7 linked regions of the Homo sapiens genome follow. The protein of the gene in region 1 purifies or fractionates together with the protein of each later gene. This does not show direct contact. Each region holds a gene or a part of one and is shown in the gene's direction. Other genes may lie near its edges.

Evidence for each region.
Region 2: the proteins of CDKN3 (region 1) and PFKP purify together in Homo sapiens (affinity purification with mass spectrometry, with the first as the bait; one large-scale study listed by BioGRID). This does not show direct contact.
Region 3: the proteins of CDKN3 (region 1) and CD47 purify together in Homo sapiens (affinity purification with mass spectrometry; one large-scale study listed by BioGRID and IntAct). This does not show direct contact.
Region 4: the proteins of CDKN3 (region 1) and HRNR purify together in Homo sapiens (affinity purification with mass spectrometry; one large-scale study listed by BioGRID and IntAct). This does not show direct contact.
Region 5: the proteins of CDKN3 (region 1) and DIS3L purify together in Homo sapiens (affinity purification with mass spectrometry, with the first as the bait; one large-scale study listed by BioGRID). This does not show direct contact.
Region 6: the proteins of CDKN3 (region 1) and HLCS purify together in Homo sapiens (affinity purification with mass spectrometry; one large-scale study listed by BioGRID and IntAct). This does not show direct contact.
Region 7: the proteins of CDKN3 (region 1) and CDC42BPB purify together in Homo sapiens (affinity purification with western blotting, with the first as the bait; one study listed by BioGRID). This does not show direct contact.

The regions. Positions count from the first base shown.
Region 1 is NC_000014.9:54,410,507-54,414,006, forward strand, and holds part of CDKN3 (cyclin-dependent kinase inhibitor 3), read left to right. Parts: intron 1-977; coding exon 978-1,200; intron 1,201-3,500. UniProt on the Homo sapiens protein: May play a role in cell cycle regulation. Dual specificity CC phosphatase active toward substrates containing either phosphotyrosine or phosphoserine residues. Dephosphorylates CDK2 at 'Thr-160' in a cyclin-dependent manner.
Region 2 is NC_000010.11:3,066,372-3,070,347, forward strand, and holds the start of PFKP (ATP-dependent 6-phosphofructokinase, platelet type), read left to right. Parts: upstream 1-1,176; 5' UTR 1,177-1,224; coding exon 1,225-1,336; intron 1,337-1,598; exon of another isoform or gene 1,599-1,618; coding exon of another isoform or gene 1,619-1,649; intron 1,650-2,255; exon of another isoform or gene 2,256-2,550; intron 2,551-2,817; exon of another isoform or gene 2,818-3,010; coding exon of another isoform or gene 3,011-3,018; intron 3,019-3,976. Other genes in the region: wiskott-Aldrich syndrome protein family member 1-like, read left to right, coding at 332-769. UniProt on the Homo sapiens protein: Catalyzes the phosphorylation of D-fructose 6-phosphate to fructose 1,6-bisphosphate by ATP, the first committing step of glycolysis.
Region 3 is NC_000003.12:108,077,532-108,081,031, reverse strand, and holds part of CD47 (leukocyte surface antigen CD47 isoform 1 precursor), read left to right. Parts: intron 1-687; coding exon 688-1,041; intron 1,042-3,500. UniProt on the Homo sapiens protein: Adhesive protein that mediates cell-to-cell interactions. Acts as a receptor for thrombospondin THBS1 and as modulator of integrin signaling through the activation of heterotrimeric G proteins.
Region 4 is NC_000001.11:152,211,576-152,214,193, reverse strand, and holds the end of HRNR (hornerin), read left to right. Parts: coding exon 1-1,118; 3' UTR 1,119-2,118; downstream 2,119-2,618. UniProt on the Homo sapiens protein: Component of the epidermal cornified cell envelopes.
Region 5 is NC_000015.10:66,328,068-66,331,567, forward strand, and holds part of DIS3L (DIS3-like exonuclease 1), read left to right. Parts: intron 1-902; coding exon 903-1,057; intron 1,058-1,153; coding exon 1,154-1,332; intron 1,333-1,545; coding exon of another isoform or gene 1,546-1,557; exon of another isoform or gene 1,558-3,500. UniProt on the Homo sapiens protein: Catalytic component of the RNA exosome complex which has 3'->5' exoribonuclease activity and participates in a multitude of cellular RNA processing and degradation events.
Region 6 is NC_000021.9:36,963,870-36,968,121, reverse strand, and holds the start of HLCS (biotin--protein ligase), read left to right. Parts: upstream 1-1,452; 5' UTR 1,453-1,483; coding exon 1,484-1,678; intron 1,679-1,729; exon of another isoform or gene 1,730-4,252. UniProt on the Homo sapiens protein: Biotin--protein ligase catalyzing the biotinylation of the 4 biotin-dependent carboxylases acetyl-CoA-carboxylase, pyruvate carboxylase, propionyl-CoA carboxylase, and methylcrotonyl-CoA carboxylase.
Region 7 is NC_000014.9:102,967,050-102,970,549, reverse strand, and holds part of CDC42BPB (serine/threonine-protein kinase MRCK beta), read left to right. Parts: intron 1-288; coding exon 289-399; intron 400-1,833; coding exon 1,834-2,078; intron 2,079-2,191; coding exon 2,192-2,297; intron 2,298-3,379; coding exon 3,380-3,500. UniProt on the Homo sapiens protein: Serine/threonine-protein kinase which is an important downstream effector of CDC42 and plays a role in the regulation of cytoskeleton reorganization and cell migration. Regulates actin cytoskeletal reorganization via phosphorylation of PPP1R12C and MYL9/MLC2.

The DNA.
Region 1 (3,500 bases):
TAGTGTATAGAATGCCTATAGTATTCATATCATTATAATGAGAATAGCTAGGTCACAGAAGTTTAATACAGGTAATGTTTTATTTACTGGCGACCTAGTCTATAAAATTAAATACACAAGGATGTGTTACAGTGCAGATATGAGGGAGAATACTAGCACCTCTGACACCATGGCCATGCTGGAGATTTTATATACAATACTCAGAGTCAAGCAAACAGCTAAGTGATGAAGTAGCAGACATGGTTGATTTTGTGAGAAAAAGAAAAAAAGTGCTATCATCCTTAATTGAACATAGATCTATCATACCTTAATTGATAGCACTTTTTTTCTTTTTCTCACAAAATCAACCATATTTGCTACTCAATTTTAAGTGTTTTAAGAGTTATTTTATGCCAGGCATGGTGGCTCATGCCTGTAATCCCAGCACTTTGGGAGGCGGAGGCGGGCAGATCAACTGAGGTCGGGAGTTCAAGACCAGCCTGACAAACATGGTGAAACCCCGTCTCTACTAAAAATACAAAATTAGCTGGGCGTGGTGACACATGCTTGTAATCCCAGCTACTTGAGAGGCTGAGGCAGGAGAATCACTTGAACCTGGGAGGCAGAGGTTGCAGTGAGCTGAGATCGTGCCATTGCACTCCGGCCTGGTGACAGAGCAAGACTCCATCTCAAAAAAAAAAAAAAAAAAAAAGAGGGGGGGTTATTTTAAAGCAGTATTCATTGCAAAAAAAAATTTTTTGCAAGAACAGCAATTGACTTATTTTGAAATTCAGTAAAAGGCATTTTGACTTGTAATATGAGGTTTAATTCTAGACCCCTTTTGATTCAGACATATCAATAGGCACTTCAGATTTATAGATTGTCATTTGGTATTAGTTTGGCTTAAGAAATTTAATTTCATATTCTCCCTCTTGATGGTATTTAAATGTGTGATGTTTTCTATGTGTGTGTGTCTGTGTATCCTGGTCTATTGGCAGAAGAACTAAAGAGCTGTGGTATACAAGACATATTTGTTTTCTGCACCAGAGGGGAACTGTCAAAATATAGAGTCCCAAACCTTCTGGATCTCTACCAGCAATGTGGAATTATCACCCATCATCATCCAATCGCAGATGGAGGGACTCCTGACATAGCCAGCTGCTGTGAAATAATGGAAGAGCTTACAACCTGCCTTAAAAATTACCGAAAAACCTTAATACAGTACGTTCTTTTCTCCATACACTATGTGAGAAATGTCTCAGTCAAAATGATTTCTGGAATTATGGTAGCCCTATTCAGTTATCACCTACTTCATAGTTTGTTGTAAGGATTAAAAGGTAATAATGCACTAGGAAAGCACTGGCACAATGTCTGGTACAGGGTAAGTAGTCAAATACGTGCTGTTATTACTTTTCAAGAGTAGGGACAATAAATGAGTAGATTTGGAAATTGTTAGAACAAGGTTACAAGCTTTTCTTTTTTATTTCTTTCCTTTAGTCTTAGACCTTTAGTTGCAATTTTGGGACCCTCCTTTCCCCTCATCACCATCACTGCCTCACTTATTAGCTTTTCAATTGCTTAGTTGCTTTCAATAGCAAGAAAATCAATTTTTTGGCCAGGTGCAGTGGCTCGCGCCTGTAATCCCAGCATTTTGGGAGACTGTGGTGGGTGGCTCACTTGAGCTCAGGAGTTCAAGACCAGCCTGGGCAACATGGCAAAACCCCATCTCCGCAAAAAGTATACAAAAGAACATGCCAGGCATGGTGGTACGTGCCTGTAGTCCCAGCTACTCAGGAGGATGAGGTGGGGGAACTGCTTGAGCCTGGGAGACAGAGGTTGCAGTGAGCCAAGGTGACAGTACTGCACTCCAGCCTGGGTGACAGGGAGACCCCATCTAGAAAAAAAAAAATAAAGAAAGTCGATTTTTTCAAAATTAGCTACCAAAAAAGTTACCTCTAAGCAATAAGCAATCCTAAAAATATGACTTGAAAATTACATTTGATGATATGACTGCTAACAGATTGAAAGAGGGCCTCTCATTGTGTGTCAGTGGCTATAAAAACACAAGCTGCTGGTGTGAAAGTTTAAAACAAAAGAAGATGGGTTAAGGAAAGGGGACAAAATGAGGAGGAAAGAAAAGCAGCTTGGAGGAAGGCCAGAGAGAGTGGCAATGGGCAGTAGATAGTAGCATGGCAAAGATTCAAAGGGGCGATGTGGATAAAAAACAAGAGATGCTCTGCCGGAAGTGAAACACACAAAGCAACAGAGAGCCAGCCATGGGGAGGAAACTGGACTTTGCCGTGCATAATGTATATTTCATATTCTAATAACCTGCTTAATCCTTTCTCGAATAAGGTAGGGTATTAAATAGTTTACGACCTCAAAAGCCCCAAGTTCCTTAAGGACATTGCTTTGAGCTAGAAGTATAGAAATTATATCAAATAGCCATGGGGTTCTCAGGGCACCTAGTCATAGGACAAGCCCAGCCAACTTCTCCTCTTAAACCTATAGCCCAGGGGCCTCATGCCAACAGTGTCAGTTCTGAAGGCAAACCAACTAGTACGAGGGTCTTTGGGGACACACACCTGTTTGTGGCCAAACTGAACTCTGACATACAGAGAAATATAGTTTGCAGAATATGCAGTAGAGAACTAGAAGCCATTCTACATCCTATTGTTTCCCATCTTCCTCTATGGAAAAAGCATAGTCACTTAACCAGTACTAATTATAAAAGCTAAATTTCAAATAGATCCAGTTGATGATGTGAAAGTTTCTGATACATATAGGTAAAATAGTATTAGATAGTTAAATGTAGCTGGGGAAAAATATTTTCCAACATAGGGCCCTATTTTTCAAACCATTTTGAGATCTTTTTTTTTTTTTTCAAATAAATTTTTGAAAGCAGCCTCTACTGAAAAGTTTCCAGAAATCAAACTAGCTCTGTTTAGTGAAGTGAAGCTTAACAAATTCTACTGTAGCTGGTTCTGGCAACCCAAATGCTCTGATGTTTGTGCAGAGTACAAACAGGATAGACAGTAGATGGGTGACTTTGCATATGCTGAATGTTTCAGTCTCCCATAAAATAAAGCATCTGACAACTGGCATTTTTCATTGTCCTAGAGCTTTCGAAGGTGTCCTACGGTGACTAGTTTATTTTCTATCCATTCTGCCATCTTTGAGGACCCACACTTCTAGACAGCTATAGAGCTTATCCTTCAGCAACAGGATCTGGTAAACCTTTTTCACTGACCTGTTGTCTACCAGTGCTGTCTCACTGGTTCTGCCTGGACATTTGCAGCCCTTTATAAAATTAGTGAACAACACTGCTTGCCTACTGTATTTTGTAGTTTCTTGGGGCTATTGTAACAAAGTACCACAAACCAGGTAGCTGAAAACAACAGAAATTTCTTCTTTCCCATTTCTAGAGGATGTAAGTCCAAAATTAAGATGAGAGCAGAGCCATGCCCTCTGAGACTGAGGAGAGTCCTTCCATGCCTCTTCCTAGCTTCTGGTGGTGGCCA
Region 2 (3,976 bases), on another chromosome or scaffold:
CTGGCACCAGGCTGTTAAGCTGTGGATGGGCAACCGCACAGTGCATTGGATGTGAGTATTTCAGTACGTGGAGCTGGCCAGTGGAGCCGGCCGAGGTCAGGCAGAGCGTACAGCAGCGCGCGTGTCCGTGGGGAGGGAGGGTCCTCCCGCCTCCCCGCCTCCCCGCCAGGCCAGTCCTGTTGCGCCTCCTCCTGCCCCACTCTGACTTTCCAGCGCCCAGGCCGGGGCGCCGCCAGGGCGTCTCTGAGGGTCGCGCCCCGATACCTTCCTCCACCCCACGGCTTCTTCCCCCCAAGGGCGGGGCTGGGGGCCCAGGAGCACCACAGCCCCCATGGGCCCGGGAAATGGCAGCTTCGTCATGGCCCAGCCCGCCACGCTCACCTTTTCCCACCACCTGGAGGATCCACTCTCCGTCCGTCCTTCCCGACCTCAGGCTGCAGAGGAAACCTGGGGGCGGGGGTCGAGGAAGCCGAGCCCCGAGGCTCCCAGCGCCGCCCCAGGAGGAATCTTGCGGGCCACTAGAAGCTGTGCGCGCGGCCGGGCTCGGCCCCCACAACGGCCCGAGCGGCCGGGCCTGCCGCGAGCCTCCGCGTCCAGGTGGGGTCTCCGCGCCCCCATTCCACCCCTCCCCGCCATCGGCGCTCCCCGCAACTGCGGGGTTTCCACCCGCCCCGGCGCTCGCGCCCACTCACGGTCTCCCTCGCCCCCCCGGGAGATGCTCCCGGCGTTCTATCCCGCCCCGCCCTGGCGCGCCCCGCAAACGATGTGACCCCGGCCCCCTGCGGTCTCCCCTCCTCCGGACGCTGCCCCTGCCCCACCTGTGGCGCTCCCGTCATCTCTAGAGCCCCCAACCAGAGTCCTCCAGCCCACCCGCGAGGCTCGCGCACCTGCGATGCGGCCCCACTAGCAGGGACCCGCCCACCTGTGGCGCTACCCCTGCCTCTGCCGCCTCCCGCACCGCTAGCGCGGCCCCCACCTACGACGACCCCCGCGTAGATGCTCCTGCCCACACCCGCCCCAGCCCCGGCCCCTGCCCCTAGCCGCGCCCGCGCCCCCTCCCCCGCAGCCCCTCCCATACGCTCGGGCCCCGCCCGTCACCGCCCATTGGCGCTGGGGCCGGGCGGGGGCGCGGGCGGGGCGGCGGTTCCGAGTCAGGCGCGCGCGGGCAGGGTCCCCATTGCCTGCTGCGCACCCGGACGTGCGGCTCCCCTCGGCCTCCTCGCCATGGACGCGGACGACTCCCGGGCCCCCAAGGGCTCCTTGCGGAAGTTCCTGGAGCACCTCTCCGGGGCCGGCAAGGCCATCGGCGTGCTGACCAGCGGCGGGGATGCTCAAGGTGCGCGCCCCCCTCCCGGCGGCGAGGGAGGGACGGACGGACGGAGCTGGGGAGAACCGGGCGAAGGCGATGGGGTGACCGGAGAGAAGAGGGGGGAAGCGATGGGGGGGACCCGGGGAAAGGTGGCGAAGCGATGGGGAGAACCGGGGAGAAGAGCGGGGAAGCGATGGGGAGAACCGGGAAGAAGCCCGCGCCCGGAAGCGGCAGGGGTACCTGCGGGGCGGCATGAGCCGGCGAGGCAGCCCCGGGGTCCTTGCCCGGTGGGGCGGGGGAGGAAGGGACATGGCGGTAGGAACCTCCATCCGGAAGATCAGTGAGTTTTCCACCTTCGGTTTTGTTTTAAATGGAACCTGGCAGAGGGAGTCGCCTGAAGCGCCCTCGGGGGTCGTTCTGCCTCTGAGCTGTAGGACGGGGCCGGGCGTCCCCTCCGAAGCGTGGGTACAGCGCGATCACTTCCTAAGTGCCCCCCCGCCCCCCAACTCCGCCGCACGCCACCCCCTAGAATGTCGAGGAAGAAACGGCTGGGTCCCCGCGCGCCTCCTGTCGCCTCGTGCCCTGCGCGGCGTGGGCGGGGTCCTGGCTGCTGCAATGCGGGACGCGGCGGGGGTGCGCGGGGTTCCCGCCTGGCGTCTCCAGGGCGGTCCGGCAGCCCCTCGCGTTTCCGCTGGGAGATTTTTAAAAAGGGTTTCCTGCGCTCGCATGTGCTGTCGCCTTCCGGCTCGTGACAAAAACGAAAACCAAAATGGGTCCCAGGCCCTCCCCGCCAGCCTCCGCAGACGGGAAGGATCAGGAAGCGGGGACTCCGGGATGTCAGCGGCGCCGCGGCGCGGGCTCCGGGCTTCCCTGCCCTGCAATGTGGAAGCTGCTCTCTAGGAGGGGCCCGAGGCTGGGCCCACGGACGCGGGCGCGCCGGGAGGATATTTAACATTGAAGAGCGGAAGGTGGCGGAGACTCGGCGCGCCCCAGGCCCCGGGTGCACGTGGGGGCGCCGGTGCCCGGATGATGGAGTGTCCCGATCCGTGCAATCCCTGGCGGGTAGATCGGCGCTTCCCAGGCGAACGCAACCTGGGAGCCTTAGCGATCGCGCAGGCTGGAGACGCGGCGCGCCCCGAGCTGGGTTTTGATTTTTGTTTTCCCGGTTCCTCCTGCCGCAGATGCGTGGAAAGGCCCGGATGGCGGATTTCCTCCCGTTTCGGGGCCGCGCACTGCACAGGGTTGGAGCGGGGATGCACCCCCTGCCCACTGCGCGGGTGACCTTCCCTTCGCCCTTGAGCGCGCGGGGCGGGCGCGGGTGCCGCAGGTTGAGGCGCTGTGGGCGCCGCCCCGCCCGCCACGAGCGCCTACGTGATGCCCGGCCCGTCGTCTCCACGAGCCCCGGCCCCGACACCCGTGCGCCGCGCGCTCCCCAGGCCCGCAGCGCAGCCTCCCCAGGCCCAGCGCCCCCCGCGGGAGACCCGGGTGGCAGCGCCAGGCCCCGCCCCGCAGCCCGCCCTGCAGCGCCCCCGGGAAGTGCTCTGGCGTTAGCATTCCAGTAAAAGGACCCCAGCATCAACGTTCTTCCTGCAGGGCTGGGTTCTCAGAGAAAGAAAACGTGATGCAGCAGAGGATGGGATTGAAGAAACAGGAGAGTGAAGTGGAAATAGCCTGGCCCGCGTGACTTAAACCGGCCCGGAGATGTGCGGGTACGAATGGAGCCGCCTTGGGGTCGGGATAGGACCCAGAGTGGCTTCTCAGTCAAAGGCCTTCAGAAGCAGAGGGAGCACCTTGAGTGACCTTACCTGGGCCGCGAAAGACAAGAAACCTTTGGCACAGGAAGAGGAACTGATCTCTGGAAGCCACCAGGGCGGGTGGAAAGTCAGGGTTTCAAGGTTATTTTGGAATTTAGGTGCTGTGGGCCTTGTACGGTGGCTCATGCTTGTCATCCCAGTGCTTTGGGAGGCCGAGGCAGGAGGCTCGCTTGAGCCGAGGAGTTCCAGAGCATCCTGGGCAACATAGTGAGACTCTGTGTCTACAAAAAAAAAGAAAGAAAAAAAATTAAGATACTGCATGTATTGGAAAATATTTATGGGTCATTCCTTTGAGCTCCATGTCCAAAAGCTTGCTAAAATGCGCGGGAGTTTGTGTACAGGCATGTGAGATTAGGATACATTGGCAGAATCGCGGTGTTCTCTGTTACCCTGGTTTTGCCACCTGGGAGGAGTTAGACATATTGAAGGTTAGTAAGTCCACGCCTCTTCTTTTCTGGGGAAAATGATACTTTGGAAACCAATATTATGTGGGGAACGCGGCTTGGTTGCTGCAACCTCGGGTTAATAGGAGACAGCTGCCCTCAGCTCTGCAGGTGGCATCAAATATGGTGGCCTCGAGCCCACATGGGTCACACCTGGGCTGTCCCTGGGGAAGCCCGCCATGGCGGGTCGCCTGGGCACTCTTTCCCTGGCAGAGCTGAAGTCACAATTTTTTTGTAGACTCTGTAAAGAGCTTTACCCTTCGGTGATACGATCTTGAACCTGTTGGAGCATTTGGACGCATTTCTTTTAAGGAAGTTCACCTCCAGATGTACTCAGAGGGCCTGGTCTTAGCTGCCACAGATTTACAAACCCTTACAGTAAGTAGGTTATTCCTCGAGAATATCTCAGT
Region 3 (3,500 bases), on another chromosome or scaffold:
GTGGGAAAATGTCATTCAAGACTCCCATACAAAATGTCTATTGCTGCCTATATTTTGCTATGGGAAAGTAGCCACAGATAATGTTTTTTTTTTCCTCATTAGTATTTTAAGATTTTCCATCCTAGTGGAAAGATATGATTTGATTCATCCTATTTACTTTGTATATTAAAGTACAGTAGAACCTGCCACTTTTTTTGGAAATGCAGCATAAGGATAAAGATAAATTTCATATCAGTTCAGCAAGTTCTATTTAGCAGTGTGTTGAAGTTGAGACTGAATAAAATATTTGGTTTGGTTTTCTGTTCAAAATTTTACCTTGATAAGGACAATATTTTTCTACATATATCAGTAGGCAGTAATGATTACTTCAAAGCTTCCAAAGCCAGATACTACACCTGCATGTTCCAACATAGTTGCTGAATTTATTCCCAAGATGCATGTAATGTATACTTTGTATTATTGAGAATGAATAAAGAAAAGTCATAATGATGCCTTCCAGCTGTGCAAGTTAATATTAAAATATAATTTGTTTGCATATTTCACCTAATAGGTCTTCTTCATTGCTATACTGTTTACTTAAGTGAACAATGGAAATGTTGCTGTTTATCTTAAGGATTTGTAACATGCCTAAGATCTTACAGTACAGACTTCTATAATTAATGAAACATTTTTCTTTTTCCTTTCCAGGATCAGCTCAGCTACTATTTAATAAAACAAAATCTGTAGAATTCACGTTTTGTAATGACACTGTCGTCATTCCATGCTTTGTTACTAATATGGAGGCACAAAACACTACTGAAGTATACGTAAAGTGGAAATTTAAAGGAAGAGATATTTACACCTTTGATGGAGCTCTAAACAAGTCCACTGTCCCCACTGACTTTAGTAGTGCAAAAATTGAAGTCTCACAATTACTAAAAGGAGATGCCTCTTTGAAGATGGATAAGAGTGATGCTGTCTCACACACAGGAAACTACACTTGTGAAGTAACAGAATTAACCAGAGAAGGTGAAACGATCATCGAGCTAAAATATCGTGTTGGTAAGACTTCTATGAAAGCTTCTTTTTTTATTTGTCCTGGTGCAACCTGATCCTCTTTCGAGAGGAGGCCAAATGGGGATAGGTACTCCTTTGAATCAAAAAGCAGGCTGTTATTAATAAATGTTGATGTAATGTTTAGCAAGTTTAAGATTGTGATTTCTATCCTATTTGTTAATCTACTCTTCATGGTAAAACACATTTACTATTTAATTTGTATTACTTGTTAATTTGTATATTGTGTGGTTCTCAAACTTTTGGTCTAAGGACCATTTTATTTGGCTGATTGGTCCTGGGGTAATGTACTCTTCATTTCTGTTTGCTGCCATCCAAGTGCTTTCTTTCCTGTGACTAATTTTCAAGTCTCTTTCCAATTATTCAGCCTTCTGTTTTTTGTGTTTTTTTTTTTTTTTTTTTTTTTTTTTTAACCTTACACTTTGACCAAGGGATGACAAGTCCCAGCCATGCTCCCTCTGGAGAGAATAGAGGAGAGTCAGGAGATTAAATCACGTTATCATGGATGATTTCTTCAGATTTTCTGTGCTTAGCCTTACTTTGGTCTTCTTTTTGTTGGCCAAAATATGAGAGAACTAGAGATTCAAATTCATTTATTCAAATTCAGACTTGATGATAGCACCATGATTCTGCCCTTTTTATCACAAACTTGGGTTGCTGAGGTGTAGAAGGTAGTAAAATTAGCTGAAGTAAATAGTCTCCTCTCCTTGCTGTTTCCTGCTGTGCTAGCTGAGTTCTTCAACCCCATATGAGTATGTTCTTTCTGTTTTGAAATCTCTATTTAGAATTACCTGTCATATTACCGATCATGGCTTAACCACATTTTGAGAACCTTAACTCTAGATAGGTTCAGTTCTGTTCAGTTGGATCAACTATTTGCCTAGCTTTTATAAAATAATCTACTACCAGATTAGGAATGGGGTGTTTGGTTTGATGAAATGTTTGCACATTACTTAGGATTGAGAATCAGGAGGTCTGAGTTACAGCCCCTGTTCAGCAACTTACTATTCACCTGTGTGATCTTGAGAAGGTGCTTAACCGAGTCCAAGTTACCTCATGTCCGAAATGGAGATGACAATAGATACTTGCTTTTATGTATTCTACAGTCTAATGAGCATAAACCAAAGTGTGTTGTAAATGTTAGTTGTTTTCCTGGGATGTTTATTTTATGAAGTAAGGTATCAAGTTGTTGAAGTTAGCCTAGAGCATTGTGAGAGGGATTTGTGTGCAGTGAGGAATGGGCAAGGGATGGCTCCGAGTAGGCAAGGAGAATTTGAAAGGTCTTTCTGCTCAGAAATCTCTCTTACATTGTAGCTTTTACTATTGATATTAATTTGGGCAAAGGAGCTTTTTTTGTTGTTGTTAAGTATACCTTTAATGAAGGGTGTAATCAGTCAGTCATATCCACTGCAACTAACTGGTATTAGATCATCTAATACCTAGTTGAAATTTTTCTGAGGTAATGTACAATTTTGTGGAAATGAAAGAATAAGATATGGGGGAACAGTAACTTTTGGGGGGTAATGCAGGTCACTGAGAGGTAAACTGGAAAACTCAAAATATGAGATTTGAAAGGCCAGAAGATGAAATGAAGATGGAAGAGAAAGGAATGCCAGGATCTGAGATAAAAACAGTTTATTATTTTGCGTGTGATTGAAAGACTGTTTTATCTTTGTTTGCAAAATACCCTATAAAAATAAAAACTAGACTTATTTTGGGAGCCATTAAAAGGAGAAAGTATTGTTTTATTATAGAGAATGTAGAAAATTCTACCAGAGGTTTGAGACATTTGGCTTTGCATCCATTTTAATTTTTTGAAATAATTATTGATTTACAGGACGATTCAAAGATAGAGAGCTTCCATGTGCCCTTCACCCAGTCCCCCCAATGGTTTCCTCTTATGTGACACAATATGAAAATCAGGAAGTTCACAATGGTGCAGTGTGTGTTAATGGTTCGCTCTCATTTTATCACGTGTTTATTTGCGTAACTACCTACACAATCAGGACATAGACCTATCCATCATAACAAACATCTCCCTCATGCTTATTCTTACTAGTCATACCGCCACCTCCCACTGTCCCTAACCTGGCAAGCACCAATTTGTCCTCCATATCTATAATTTTGTCATTTCAACAATGCTATATAAATGGAATGATACAAGATGTGACCTTTTGAGAAGGGCTTTTTCACTAAGCACAATGCCCTTGAGATCTATCCAAGTTTTTGCATCTATCAATAGTTCTTTTTTCCTTACTTTTTTTTTTGCTGAGTAGTAGTCCATAGTATGAATATATCACAGTTTGTTTAACCACTTACCTATAGTAGGACATTTTGGTTGTTTCCAAGTTTGGGCTGTTACAAATGAAACTGCTCTGAACAATTGTGTACAGGTTCTTGTGTAGACACAGTTTTCATTTCTCTGGGATAAATGCTCAGAAGTATGG
Region 4 (2,618 bases), on another chromosome or scaffold:
GCTCAGGTCATTCCTCTACCCATGGGCAACATGGTTCTACATCAGGACAGTCATCGAGCTGTGGCCAACATGGAGCTAGCTCAGGTCAGTCTTCCAGCCACGGTCAGCATGGCTCTGGCTCAAGTCAGTCTTCTGGCTATGGCCGACAGGGCTCTGGATCTGGCCAGTCTCCAGGCCACGGCCAGCGTGGGTCTGGGTCAAGGCAGTCTCCCAGCTACGGCCGACATGGGTCTGGCTCCGGTCGGTCTTCCAGCAGTGGCCAACATGGGTCTGGCTTAGGCGAGTCTTCTGGCTTTGGTCACCACGAGTCTAGCTCAGGGCAGTCCTCTAGTTACAGTCAGCATGGGTCTGGCTCAGGTCACTCCTCTGGCTACGGACAACACGGCTCTAGATCAGGACAGTCATCTAGGGGTGAACGACACGGATCTAGCTCAGGTTCGTCTTCCCACTATGGTCAGCATGGGTCTGGCTCCCGTCAGTCTTCGGGCCACGGCCGACAAGGGTCTGGATCTGGCCAGTCCCCTAGCCGCGGCCGACATGGGTCCGGTTTGGGGCACTCCTCCAGCCACGGCCAACATGGGTCTGGCTCAGGTCGTTCTTCCAGCCGTGGCCCATATGAGTCTCGCTTGGGTCACTCTTCTGTCTTTGGTCAACATGAGTCTGGCTCAGGACATTCCTCTGCTTACAGTCAGCATGGTAGTGGCTCAGGGCACTTCTGTAGCCAAGGACAGCATGGTTCTACATCAGGACAGTCATCAACCTTTGACCAGGAGGGATCTAGCACAGGCCAGTCTTCCAGCTATGGCCACCGTGGCTCTGGCTCCAGTCAGTCTTCTGGCTATGGCCGACATGGGGCTGGATCTGGCCAGTCTCTTAGCCACGGCCGACACGGGTCTGGTTCAGGGCAGTCTTCCAGCTACGGCCAACATGGGTCTGGCTCAGGACAGTCCTCTGGTTATAGTCAGCATGGAAGTGGCTCAGGGCAAGATGGGTATTCTTATTGCAAAGGAGGAAGTAACCATGATGGGGGAAGTTCTGGCTCATATTTTCTCAGTTTTCCTAGTAGCACTTCACCCTATGAATATGTCCAAGAGCAGAGGTGCTACTTTTATCAGTGAATAATAAACATAAATGCAATTTACTCAAGTAGCAATTTAAGAAATAGGAAAGTCATCTATGAATTCATCATGAAAGACAAGCAATCCATCATGAAATTCGTTCTAAAAGTGAATCAATGCATTTCTGTCTCTTTCTTTAGAGCCTAAAACTGTAGCATATATCTTGTTATGGGGTTCCTTCCAAAGACTGTTAGGCATTTGTGCTACTTTGTTAGAAAATACTGAGTGGAATAACTTGTTAGAATGAGGGTTAAACTTTGAGGAATAATGAAAAGCTTTTAAAGAGCTTTGGGTTTAGTTGGAGTTGTCTTTTTGAGAGCTCATCATTCATTTATAGATGGTGCCAAAGCTAACCTTACATTTCTTAGAAGCAAAATATTACAAATGCATTACCAGTCCTAGATACAAAGCTTTGTTTTACAGCAATTAGTGTACCCTAATTTTTAGTGTGCCCCAAGTTTGGTGTGTCCCAATTTTTGGTATTGTGGCAGAAGGTGAAGGCTCTGAAAGCAAAGATGCAGCAGCGGTAGTGTCTTTACTTATCAAAACCATCAAGTCCTTTTTCTTGGGTATATATTTAATCAGTAAGTTAATTAGTGGCATAAAAAAGTAGCATCAGGGTCTTTTCCCAAGCCAGTGAGCAAGAGCATTATTTCATAAAGAATAGGGATTTATCATTTCAGGAAAAAAAAAAACATTCAAATGTGGGCTTTAGCTTGTTTTCAGCAGAAAGATCTTGCTCCCTATTTCTAAGAGGCTGCTCAATATTGGGAAATATATTGAGGAGTTATTCCATGGAAATACAATGCTTTCCACCTACTACTGTAGTTCAATAACGTTTCCACCTGAAAAAATATCATCCATGCCCAGATGAAAAGGAAGAGTATCTGTCACTGCTACATAGTTCCTTAATTTGACTGTAACACATTTGTTTCAAGTCTTTGGATTCAAACAACCGGATTGTATTAAAATTGACAATAAATAAATGTTGATTAAATACTAAGACTTTTCTCATCTGTGCTTCATTTCACTTCTTACATACAGATGGTCATCCTAGAAACCAAACCAAACAGCGATTTCCCAATATTCTATTTTTCACAATGAAGAATAGATAAAGCATTCTTAAAACTCAATAAGACAAACTACTTCATTTTAAAATGATCAAAATTCCATCACACTGGTATTGGCAATGATTTTTTTGATATGACACCAAAATCACACACAATAATGTGGAGCTGTCAGCTCCATACATTTTATTGTCCCTGAAGCCCTTAGAGGGAGACAACATATGGAGGTAGAAGGCGATATTTGTCTTGGTTTAACAAAAACTTTTTAGTGTTAGTTTTAATTTTTAACAAAAAAAGTTTTTTAAAAAAATTTAAAACAGAAAAAAGCCTACAGAATAATGATGTAAAGAAAAAAATATTTGTGTTCAGCTATACAATGTGTTCGTGCTTTAAGCTAGGTGTTAATTAAGAGAGTCAAAAAGTTTAAAAATGT
Region 5 (3,500 bases), on another chromosome or scaffold:
GGGACAAGGGCTTTCAGACATCCTCTTGGTTAATTCTTAATGCTGAGGTGATGGCAGCATCATTCATATTTACAGATAAGTCAATTAAGTCTGAAGAGATTAAGTAATTTGCCTGTAATTTAACAGTCAGGGCAGAGCCAAGATTTGAATCCAAGTCTGTTAAACTTGCAAGCTCACATAGTGACCACTTAACACCTTGCCTCTCTGTTCATCATCATGCTCTATTTCTCCTTTCCCCCTTTTCCCTTAGCCAGCCACAATATAGGACTGAATTATATGTTATTAGTTTTATTTTTAATATACCTCTATATTTCCTGGGGCTTTGAAATTATTATTTTGAGGCTGTATGCAGTGGCTCACACCTGTAACCCCAGCACTTTGGGAGGCCGAGGCAGGAGGATCACTGAAGGCCAGGAGTTCAAGACTAGCCTGGGCAACAAAGTGAGACCCTGTCTCTACAAAAAAATTATTTTGAGAATAAATAAATAGAATGCTTACTACCTCTTTAAAAAAGAAAAACTAATTTAGGTTTCTTTTACTTGTACACCAAGTCCATTATTTTACCTATATATAGAATGTTTAAGGTTAAGGATGTAAAGAATTCAATTCAACGAGTATTTGACCACCTATTATAGCCAAGCACTAACTTAACCTAGTATTAAAATCAGTACATGATTCATTTCTACTTAAGAAATGTATTTAAATTCTGACACTCTTGTTTTGTTTAAGCCGTAAAGCAAACTAGATTTCTGTAGTTGAAAAGAGGTGCTTCTGAAACGTGTCCAAAACAAATTTACTGGCAGATGAAGGTATTCAGACGGATGAGTGAAGGGTTCCCCTCAAAGTGTTGTCTTGTAAATTACTGTCTGGGACTAGCTAACGGTTTTTCTGTTCTTTGTCAGGTCCAATAAAACACTGGCTGATTCTCTGGATAATGCGAACGACCCCCACGATCCCATTGTGAACAGGCTACTGCGCTCCATGGCCACGCAGGCCATGTCGAATGCTCTGTACTTCTCCACCGGATCCTGTGCGGAGGAGGAGTTCCATCATTACGGTGAATCATACCATATTCCTATGTGTGGCTGTAACTTTGCGCTAGTTATTTTAAAATAGTTTTTGTTTATTTTGATCTTTTGCTTTCTTTTTGAAGGTCTTGCATTAGATAAATATACCCACTTTACTTCTCCAATAAGAAGATATTCAGATATTGTAGTACACCGCTTGTTAATGGCAGCCATTTCAAAAGATAAGAAAATGGAAATTAAGGGAAATCTGTTCAGCAACAAAGATCTTGAGGAATTATGCAGACATATCAACAACAGAAACCAAGTAAGAGGGAATTTCAAAATTCTCTTACCTGTCATCTCTTGCTAAGAAAATATCAGCTTTATTGTGTAGTACCGTGAAGTATCATATATTCTAGCAAATTAAATTCTAGAATTATTCTAACCAGTGCTTTCAGAACATTTGTAGATGTTCTCAGGTAACTTGTGGATTTGGGAGATTTGACGGTAGATTATCAGATTTTTTTTTTTCCGAAAGGTGGAAATGTAAAGATTCAAGCAACGCATAAAGATATGATGACAGAGGCCAGACGTGGTGGCTCACTTGAGGGCGGATCACTTGAGGTCAGGAATTTGAGACCAGCCTGGCCAATATGGTGAAACCCCATCTCTACAAAAAATACAAAAATTAGCCGGGTGTGATGGCACGCGCCTGTAGTCCCAGTTACTTGGGAGGCTGAGGCAGGAGAATCTCTTGAACCCAGGAGGTGGAGATTGCAGTGGGCCGAGATCACACCACTGCACTCTAGCCTGGGTGACAAAATTGAGACTGTGTCTCAAAAAAAAAAAAAGATATGAAGACAGAAACATCACCTGTTATCTTACCACCCAGAGCTAACAATTAATGATTCTAGACACTGCTAACATTTTTATTTATAAAAATATCGGCCAGATGCGGTGGCTTGCACCTGTATTCCCAGTACTTTGGGAGGCTGAGGCAGGTGGATCACGAGGTCAGGAGATCGAGACCATCCGGGCTAACACAGTGAAACCCCATCTCTACTAAAAATACAAAAAATTAGCATGGTGGCAGGCGCCTGTAGTCCCAGCTACTCAGGAGGCTGAGGCAGGAGAATGGTGTGAACCCGGGAGGCGGAGCTTGCAGTGAGCTGAGATTGCACCACTGCACTCTGGCCTGGGTGACAGAGCGAAACTCCGTCTAAAAAAAAAAAATCACACCGTGCCTGCTGTTTGAATCTGCTTTTTTCATGTAACCCAACTGTTATTGATAGCACACCATGTTATATCATTGTTTTGAAGCTGCTTTCTATTCTATTTCATATTACTAGTTGCTACAAGATTGCACAGCATAGAACTAGACTATTGGGTAACGCAGGAAATTGGAAACTACCTAAATGTTTAATGTAATTTTCTATATCCAATGGTATAGTTGTCTGCTGTGCAATGTTGTAGCACTAGCCATGTGGACTACCTAAATTTAATTAAAATTAGAAGTAGAAATTTGTCTCAGTAGAAATTTGGCCAGTGTCTCAGTCACACTGGCCACATTGTATAGCTCAGTGGCCACTTGTGGTTAGTGGCTACATATTAGGCAACACAGATAGAGAGCATTTCTATCATTGCAGAAAGTTCTGTTGGGCAGCACTGTTCTAAGCAATCAAATTTATAACCATCCTTATGGATACACTTATACAGACATTTCAGATGATTTCCTGGAAAAATTCCTAGAAATGGAATTGCTGAGCCAAAAGGTGTGCATGCACAAATGAAACTGATAGGTCAGGTGCAGTGGCTCACGACTGTAATCCTAGCACTTTTCGAGGTCGAGGCCGGTGGATCACCTGAGTTCAGGAGTTCCAGAGCAGCCTGGCCAACATGGTGAAACCCCGTTACTACTAAAAATACAAAAATTAGCCAGGCATGGTGGTGCATGCCTGTAATCCCAGCTAATCGGGCGGCTGAGGCAGGAGAATCACTTGAACCCGGGAGGCAGAGGTTGCAGGGAGCCAAGATCGCGCCATTGCACTCCAGCCTAGGCGATAGAGTGAGACTCCATCTCAAAAAGAAGACAAAGAAACTTTAATACATATTACTAAATTGTCTTCCTTATCAGTAGTGCTAATTTAGACTTCCACCAATAGGGTTTTCATTGGACAGGCTTGAAAAGAAAGAAAGGCTGGCCGGGCGCGGTGGCTCATGCCTGTAATCCCAGCACTTTGGGAGGCCGAGGCAGGCGGATCACGAGGTCAGGAGATCAAGACCATCCTGGCTAACACAGTGAAACCCCATTTCTACTAAAAATACAAAAAATTACCCGGGCGTGATGGCAGGCGCCTGTAGTCCCAGCTACTCCAGAGGCTGAGGCAGGAGAATGACGTGAACCCAGGAGGTAGAGCTTGCAGTGAGCCGAGATTGCACCACTGTACTCCAGCCTGGGTGACAGAGTGAGACTCCATATCTCAAAAAAAAAAA
Region 6 (4,252 bases), on another chromosome or scaffold:
ACTTCAGCTCAGAGTTCGAAGCTGCAGAGAGCTGTGATTATGCCACGGCACTCCAGCCTGGGCGACAGAACGAAACCTTGTCTCTTAAAAAAAATCTATCCTAGCTGGGCGCGGTGGTTCACGCCTGTAATCCCAGCACTTTGGGAGGCAGAGGCGGGTGGATCACCTGAGGTCAGGAGTTCGAGACCACCCTGGCCAACGTGGTGAAACCCTGTCTCTACTAAAAATACAAAAGTTAGCCAGGCATGGTGACGGGCACCTGTAATCCCAGCTACTCGGGAGGCTGAGGCAGGAGAATCGCTTGAACCCAGGAGGCAGAGCTTGCAGTGAGCCGAGATTGCACCACTGCACTCCAGCCTGGGTGACAGAGAGAGACTGTCTCAAAAACAAACAAACAAAAACTATCCTTAGATTAAGACATGGACGTGGTGTACATGATTGCTTTTGCTGCATCTTGCCACCTATTTTCAGCGAGGGCCAGAATAGGAAGCCACTGGATGGAATTCTTTGCTGTGCTTCGCAGCTGTTCAGAACACGTTCTTTACATAATGCCTTTTAAAGAAATGAGGTTCTATGGGAGAAGCCTCTGTGTCAGGACTAATTATGCTTCCCTTGGAGACAAGAACACCAAATCATGGTGATGTTTTCCTTTTCCCACTGGTGTTAGGATGCTTACAGTCAAACTGTTGACCCACATGTAGCAAGAACACCATAGGGAGCCTTCCTGGCACAGCCTTTTTAGAGGCAGCCTTCTTGGTGCTTATCTGTCTTCAATTTCTGTTTCCTGTCCTTATTTAAAAAAACATTATTGCATCCCGTGAATGTATGTGATTGACCTTAAAATCTTTTGCATGAAGGCTTAGTATAATTTAATAAAAACGGCCTTATCTTATTTTCCCAAGTCGACTGGGTAGCGGCTGTGGAGCGCTCTGGGACTCCCGGTGTGCTGCTGGTTAGTAAAGGTTGGCCTTGGCAGCTATGAACATAGGCAGAGCCCCCTCCTCAATCCGCCTCCCACCCCTCCAAGGAAGGGAGGCCGGACTTGGCTTAAACAGGTCGGGCAGCCACTGGAGCCTCCCCTCCCCCGCATCCACAACATACCCATCCCACTCCTCAGCCCTGGCGCGGCCCCGCACCCCGGCCTCCACTCCCTCGAGCCCCCTCTCCGGGTGCAGCCCCGGCGTCCCCTGACCCCGGTGCACACCCCCCGCCCCAGCGCTGCCCCTCGCCGCCGCCACCAGCCCTGGGCGCGGCCTCCGGAGCTCCCCATCACACAGCCGGGCGCGGCCTCACCCCCCCCCGCCCCTCCCGCCGCAGCCTCCAGTTGCCCGCGTCACCTTCCGGGTCCCCGCCTCCCCCGCCGTCCCCACCCCCGCGCCGCCTGGCCCGGGGGGGCGGCGCGGCCCTTCCGGCCGGGGCGGGGCCGGGCCTGGGGCGCTGGGGCGGGCGGGCAAGGCGGGCTCGCCCTGCCGGCGGCGCGGCCATGCTCATCACGCTGTGCTACCTGTACCTGTGGGCGCGCTGGGGTCGCCGGCCGGCTGAGCTCGTGCGCGCCACGGTGCGGCGGCTGCGTGCCTCGCGCTGTTCCTTCACCTTCTGCGGCGCGGCCGCGCAGCCCCCGGGCGCCCGCGTGTGCCTGAGCCGTGGCGGCCGCGTCTTCTGCGTCAGCGACAGCCAGGTGGGCGGGTCGGGCGGGCGGGCGACCCGGGCCCCGCGAGCCGGAAGTGCCCCCGTCCCTGCGCCTCGTCCCCGCCGGGAGCCCGGGAGTTCGGGAGCCCCGGAGTGGCGCCCTCAGTGCGGCCTGTGCGGCCCGGGAGGGGCTGTTGCCCCGGGGCCCAGAGAGAGGCCGGAGGTGCGGGACTCGGACCACGGACCCGGTCGCCTCTTCCCGGCCAGCCGGGCGGTGCTGGACGCGTGACTCTAGGCGCGCACCTGTGAGGACGTGAGCTGTGGATTGACAGCCGGACGCCAGCAGTGCCCACCTGGGGTCGCCCCCAACCTCCTCTCCCACACTTCGAGCCGGCGTTTGGGTGACCGTGAACCAGGAGAGACAGCTGTGGCGGGCCGGGAGCGGTGGCTTATGCCTGTAATCCCTGCACTCTGGGAGGCCTAGGAGGAAGGACAGCTTTGAGCCCAGGAGATGGAGACCAGCCTGGGCAACATAGCTAGACCCCTCTCTACAAAAAACAAAACAAAAAAAACACTTAGGTCGGCGTGGTGGCACGCGCCTGTAGTCCCAGCTACTCTGGAGGGTGAGGCGGGAGGGTCACTTGATCCCGGGAGGTTCACTTGAGCCCCGGAGTTTGAAGCTACAGTGAGCTATGATTGAGCCATTGCACTCCAGTCTGGGTGACAAAGCAAGACCCTGTCTTAAGAAAAAAAAAAAAAAATCCCAAACAAAAAACTCCCACCTGTGTCATCAGCTTTTTGTCAGATGTCCCCAAATTTACAAAAACTGCCCTTTTCCCTCTCCATCTTCTGTCAGTTGGTTGCATCATTCACCAACTTGGGCACCCGACTGATGGTCTTTGCGTCTTTTAAATTTCAGTTGACAGTCAGCCTTTGTTTTTTTTGACCCAGTGCTTAGGATGGTGGTTACGTGTTCAGCCCACTCTGTCACCTACCTTGTGACTTGGGCCAGTCAATTAATCTCTGTAAAAAGTCTGCTGCCTTGCTGTAAAGGGAACAATAGATCTTTCCATTCAGCTGTTTTTGGAAATGGGCTTAGCTTCACAGTGCAGTACTGCACAAAATTTCATGGACATCGGTAGCATTGTTCTCATTAATATTTAAACGTGTTTTGCTTTTAATCTGTTTCTTGTCCCTTTCCTCTGTTTTCTGGAATATTGCCTCACTTTTAGCACTAAAATGACGTTTTCTGCATATGTCACACCGTAAAGCCCCTGTGGGGAATTGAATCTTATCTCAGGTTTGAACATTGCCTGGAGGCTGTGCTTAGATATGGGTTGAAATTGTGCCACTAGCAAATAAAAAATACTCTTTCTTGTTAGTACCATATATGTATTATGTCACACTGAATATGAATGACTGTTTTCTCAGGTCCCCCAAGGTACTAGTTATGCAAATAACTAGTACCACCTCCACATAACTGACACTACCCAGACAAAAGGGGAAGAAGTTCATGCATTACATACAATGTATGGCTTAGAGCGTTGGGAATTAACCTGATTGAGAAAGATAACTCAATAAAATGGCAAAAAATTGAGGGGTGAGCTTTTTGTAGTAGTTTCCAAATTGGATCAATTACATTTAGGATTTAAGTCAGAATAGAAATTTTGGACATATAAAAACATGGAGATGGGAATGTCTGATTTTCTTGGACAGTTTTACTTTTGAACATTTTCATGACTCCGCTGGCCTTCTGTTAACTACACTAACCATAACTAGTGATTTTCAGCCCTTGCCTACCTGTGCAGGCCGGAGTAGGAGTGGCCTGGTGCTTTCATGGATTCTGTAACTCTGCTCTGTCACTCTGCACAGTAAGCTTTGCCTACAGATTTGGTTAGATATTGCTGCGTCATTTCCTAGTTTTCCAGACTAGATGGGATGGCCATGCTCTGCATCCCTGTAGCCTTTAAATCACAGTTCCTATTCTAGTTCGTATCTTTTTCTTATTAGGAAATGAGACTGTTTAGCATAGCAGCTTGACCTGAAATAGTAAATTTAATAGTTGTTGGGTTTAAGCTGTGATGTTGAAGGTCTACAGGTGGAAAGCTTGACCATTTATTTGTGGTTGGCTACTGTTATTTTGAGATTTAAAATATGATCAGGTTGATGATTTGGTGGATATCTCAGTCTGCTTGGGTCTACTTTTGAGGGATACCTCAGTCTACTTGGGCTGAAATAAGGACACACCTGAATCTCATGCCCATATGTTGAGATGGATCTCATTCTGTCACCCAGGCTGGAGTGCAGTGGCGCGATCTCCGCTCACTGCAATCTCCACCTCCCAGGTTCAAGTGATTCTCCTCCTTTGGCGTCCTGAGTAGCTGGGATTACAGGCATGAGCCACCACGCCTGGCTAATTTTTGTATTTTTAGTAGAGACAGGGTTTCACCAAAGTGTTGGCCAGGCTGGTCTCAAACTCCTGACCTCAGGTGATCCGCCCACCTTGGCCTCCCAAAGTGCTGGGATTACAGGTGTGAGCCACCAAGCCTGGCGTGTTCTCATATGTTATACACTTAAAATCAAATGCATGAATACTGAATATGTGTGTTTATAATTGAATGCC
Region 7 (3,500 bases), about 49 Mb from region 1:
CTGGTTTTCACGAATCAGTGAAATTTAAATTTCAAGAAATGTATCCTTTCTTGAAATTTAAGTGTCAATTTAAGCTAGAATTGAACCTTGTTTTATTAGTAACCAACCATCCCAGTTGAACCCAGAAGTGTATTTCTCAAACTTTAATTTGTGATAAGATTTGATGAAGGGTGAACACGCGCAGAGCTCCTTCGAGGTCTTGTTCTTGTGGAGGTCCCGTGGGTGCTGCTGTAACTGGTGAAGCAGGGCTCGCTTTTTGTTAATAGAAACTGGATCTTCCTTTTGTAGCTGGAAGCTCAGCTTGATGATGCTGTTGCTGAGGCCTCCAAGGAGCGCAAGCTTCGTGAGCACAGCGAGAACTTCTGCAAGCAAATGGAAAGCGAGCTGGAGGCCCTCAAGGTAGTGCTGGGCGGGGGTCTCTGCCCTTAACTGAGAGGGATGCTTATCTTTGCTGACGCCACCACATGGAAGTCACCTTGTGTAATGTGTGGTCCGGGCCGAGTGTCACCCGAGGCTGTTCAGACAAGACCCACATGTGGAGAGGTGGGGGGTGTGACCCCTGCCTTCGTGACTGCTTTCATTTTTAAAGGCCAAGTTCATGTTTTTCCTTTGTTATATAAAAGTTTCAGGCAATTCACAGTAAGTCCTAGGAAACGAATATCTAATTGGCTCATTTCCTACTCCAGCCCCATCAATTCATAGCCTTCTTCACATCGTGGTATTCTAAATTCGGTGCAGTTGAGTTTTGGAAAAGCTCCTTAAAGCCCGTAGCCTGCTGCTGACTGGGGAAGAGACAGGCTGGCCATCAGTCGGGGCCCACTGGTGGGGCTGGAGGGTAGCAGGGAGGCCGCGGAGGGCGGGAGTGGGGAAGGCCACAGTGGCCAAGTGGGCAAGGGGCCGGAGGCGGATCTCCTTGGCAGTATGGCGTGGCCTGGATCTCCTCATGTGTGAGCCGCGTGCGATGGGTCTGCCCTCTCCCTTCGCCTCAGTGATCTGGCAACTCTTCCTCTGGGACGTGGGCCTGAGATGCTGTTCCTCCCTGGCAGCGGGCTTGGCTGGACCTCGGCATGTGGTGCCCGAGGCTCCTGCCCCTTTCTCAGCCCTTGAGTCTCCTCTCTGCACAGCAGGCAGAGTGAGCTTGGCAGACCAAAGCCGGATCACATTCCTGTGCGGCAGGGCCTCCGTGGCTCCGCAGCTGTCCAGCAGCTACCCTCCTGCCTGCTCCAGCCCAGCAGTGCCTCTCCTGCCCCTCCTTGCCCCGCCACACCAGACACACTGGCCTCTCTGCATGCTGCAAACACTGCCAACACGTCCCACCTCACTCCAGCCTGTGCCCTTGTTCTTTGCCCCTAGCCTGACACCTCACTTAATAGGCCAGCACCTTACAGAAGCCGCCCCAGCCATCCTGGCACGCCCTCCACTCCCTACAACCTGGCTGGGGTGCACGGCCCCTCTGCCCCTTTACTGGTTTGCTGTCAGTTCCCGCCAGCCCCAAGAGAGCAGAGACCTCAGTGTCACCCCAGTCACAAGGAGGGGGCCCAGCACAGAGTCAGCCCTCAGAAGAATGCTGCAAGCATGAATGAACAGGGTGTGGGGCAGAGCTTCGGGGGTCCCAGGCAGACCTGGGCACATCCCCCTGCAAGGCCGTCTCCTGCTGTGACCCCCTAGAACCTGGATCACGTTAGCCAGGTCAGCTACGTCATCTGGTGTAGACCAGGCACACACAGTCCTTGGGAAGGTGTCTGCACTTGCTTGGGATGAAAGGGGTTGAAAGGACAGTGTGACCCTTGAGGACACAGAGGTTTGTCAATTTATGTTAACCTTTGTCTTCAGGTGAAGCAAGGAGGCCGGGGAGCGGGTGCCACCTTAGAGCACCAGCAAGAGATTTCCAAAATCAAATCCGAGCTGGAGAAGAAAGTCTTATTTTATGAAGAGGAATTGGTCAGACGTGAGGCCTCCCATGTGCTAGAAGTGAAAAATGTGAAGAAGGAGGTGCATGATTCAGAAAGCCACCAGCTGGCCCTGCAGAAAGAAATCTTGATGTTAAAAGATAAGTTAGAAAAGTCAAAGCGAGAACGGTAGGTTTTCATGAGCTTCTCAGTTCAGAAGATGCAAGCTGATACCCACGCCATAGATACGAATATCAGTGAAGTTACGAGCTTTTAAAACTGTTTCTCGCTCACCTTGGCAGGCATAACGAGATGGAGGAGGCAGTAGGTACAATAAAAGATAAATACGAACGAGAAAGAGCGATGCTGTTTGATGAAAACAAGAAGCTAACTGCTGAAAATGAAAAGGTAATTAATTCAAAGTACCTGAGTTAGCACTTTGTGTGGAAGTTGTAATTTAAAAAAAAATTATTTTTAATTTGTGTGGGTACATAGTAGGTATATATATTTATGGGGGAGTAGAATGTCGTCATTCTTGAGTCTTGGAAGTTTGGTTTTTTTTTTTTGAGATGGAGTCTCGCTCTGTCGCTCAGGCTGGAGTGCAGTGACGCGATCTTGGCTCACTGCAACCTCTGCCTCCCAGGTTCATGCCATTCTCCCACCTCAGCCTCCCAAGTGGCTGGGACTACAGGCGTCTGCCACCACGCCTGGCTAAGTTTTTGTATTTTTAGTAGAGACGGGTTTTCACCGTGTTAGCCAGGATGGTCTCAATCTCCTGACCTCATGATCCACCCACCTCAGCCTCCCAAAGTGCTGGGATTACAGGCATGAGCCACTGCGCCGGCCGAAGTTTGGTGTCTTTTTACAGTGCAGTAATGTGCCATATAACGATGCTTCCATCAATGATAGACTGTGTGTACAACAGGCGTCCCGTACGATCATAATACTGTACTTTACTCTACCTCTTCTGTGTTGAGATACACAGATACTTAGCATTGTGCTACAGCCGCCGGCAGCGTCCCGCACAGCAACATGGTATGCAGGCTTGGGGCCTGGAATTGACAGGCTGTACCACAGGGCCTGGTGTGCGGCAGCCGCACCGTCTAGGCTTGCGTGAGTGCATTCACGCTGTGTGTGCAAGGACACGTTTCTCAGACCGTGTTCTTGCTGTTTCACTACACGTGACTGTTTTAATTTTTGAATGGAGTCATGTGTTTGGTCTTTTAAATAGGATGTTTGTATTCAGCGAAAAGATGCCAATTGCCTGAAGTCACTAGCTCCAGCTCCATCAGTTTAGGTTTAGATTTGAATTGAAATGTGACTTAAGCTAGATACAGTGAAAAAAATCCATATCATGAACTTAGTTTGGAAAAATCTCATGACGATTAAAGAAAACTTTCAGAGTCTTCAAAAGAACTTCCAGTGTTAAATCCAGCATACTTAAAGGATGCCCGATTAACAAGTTCTGTGGTGAAATTGTTTCATTTCAGCTCTGTTCCTTTGTGGATAAACTCACAGCTCAAAATAGACAGCTGGAGGATGAGCTGCAGGATCTGGCAGCCAAGAAGGAGTCAGTGGCCCACTGGGAAGCTCAGATTGCGGAAATCATTC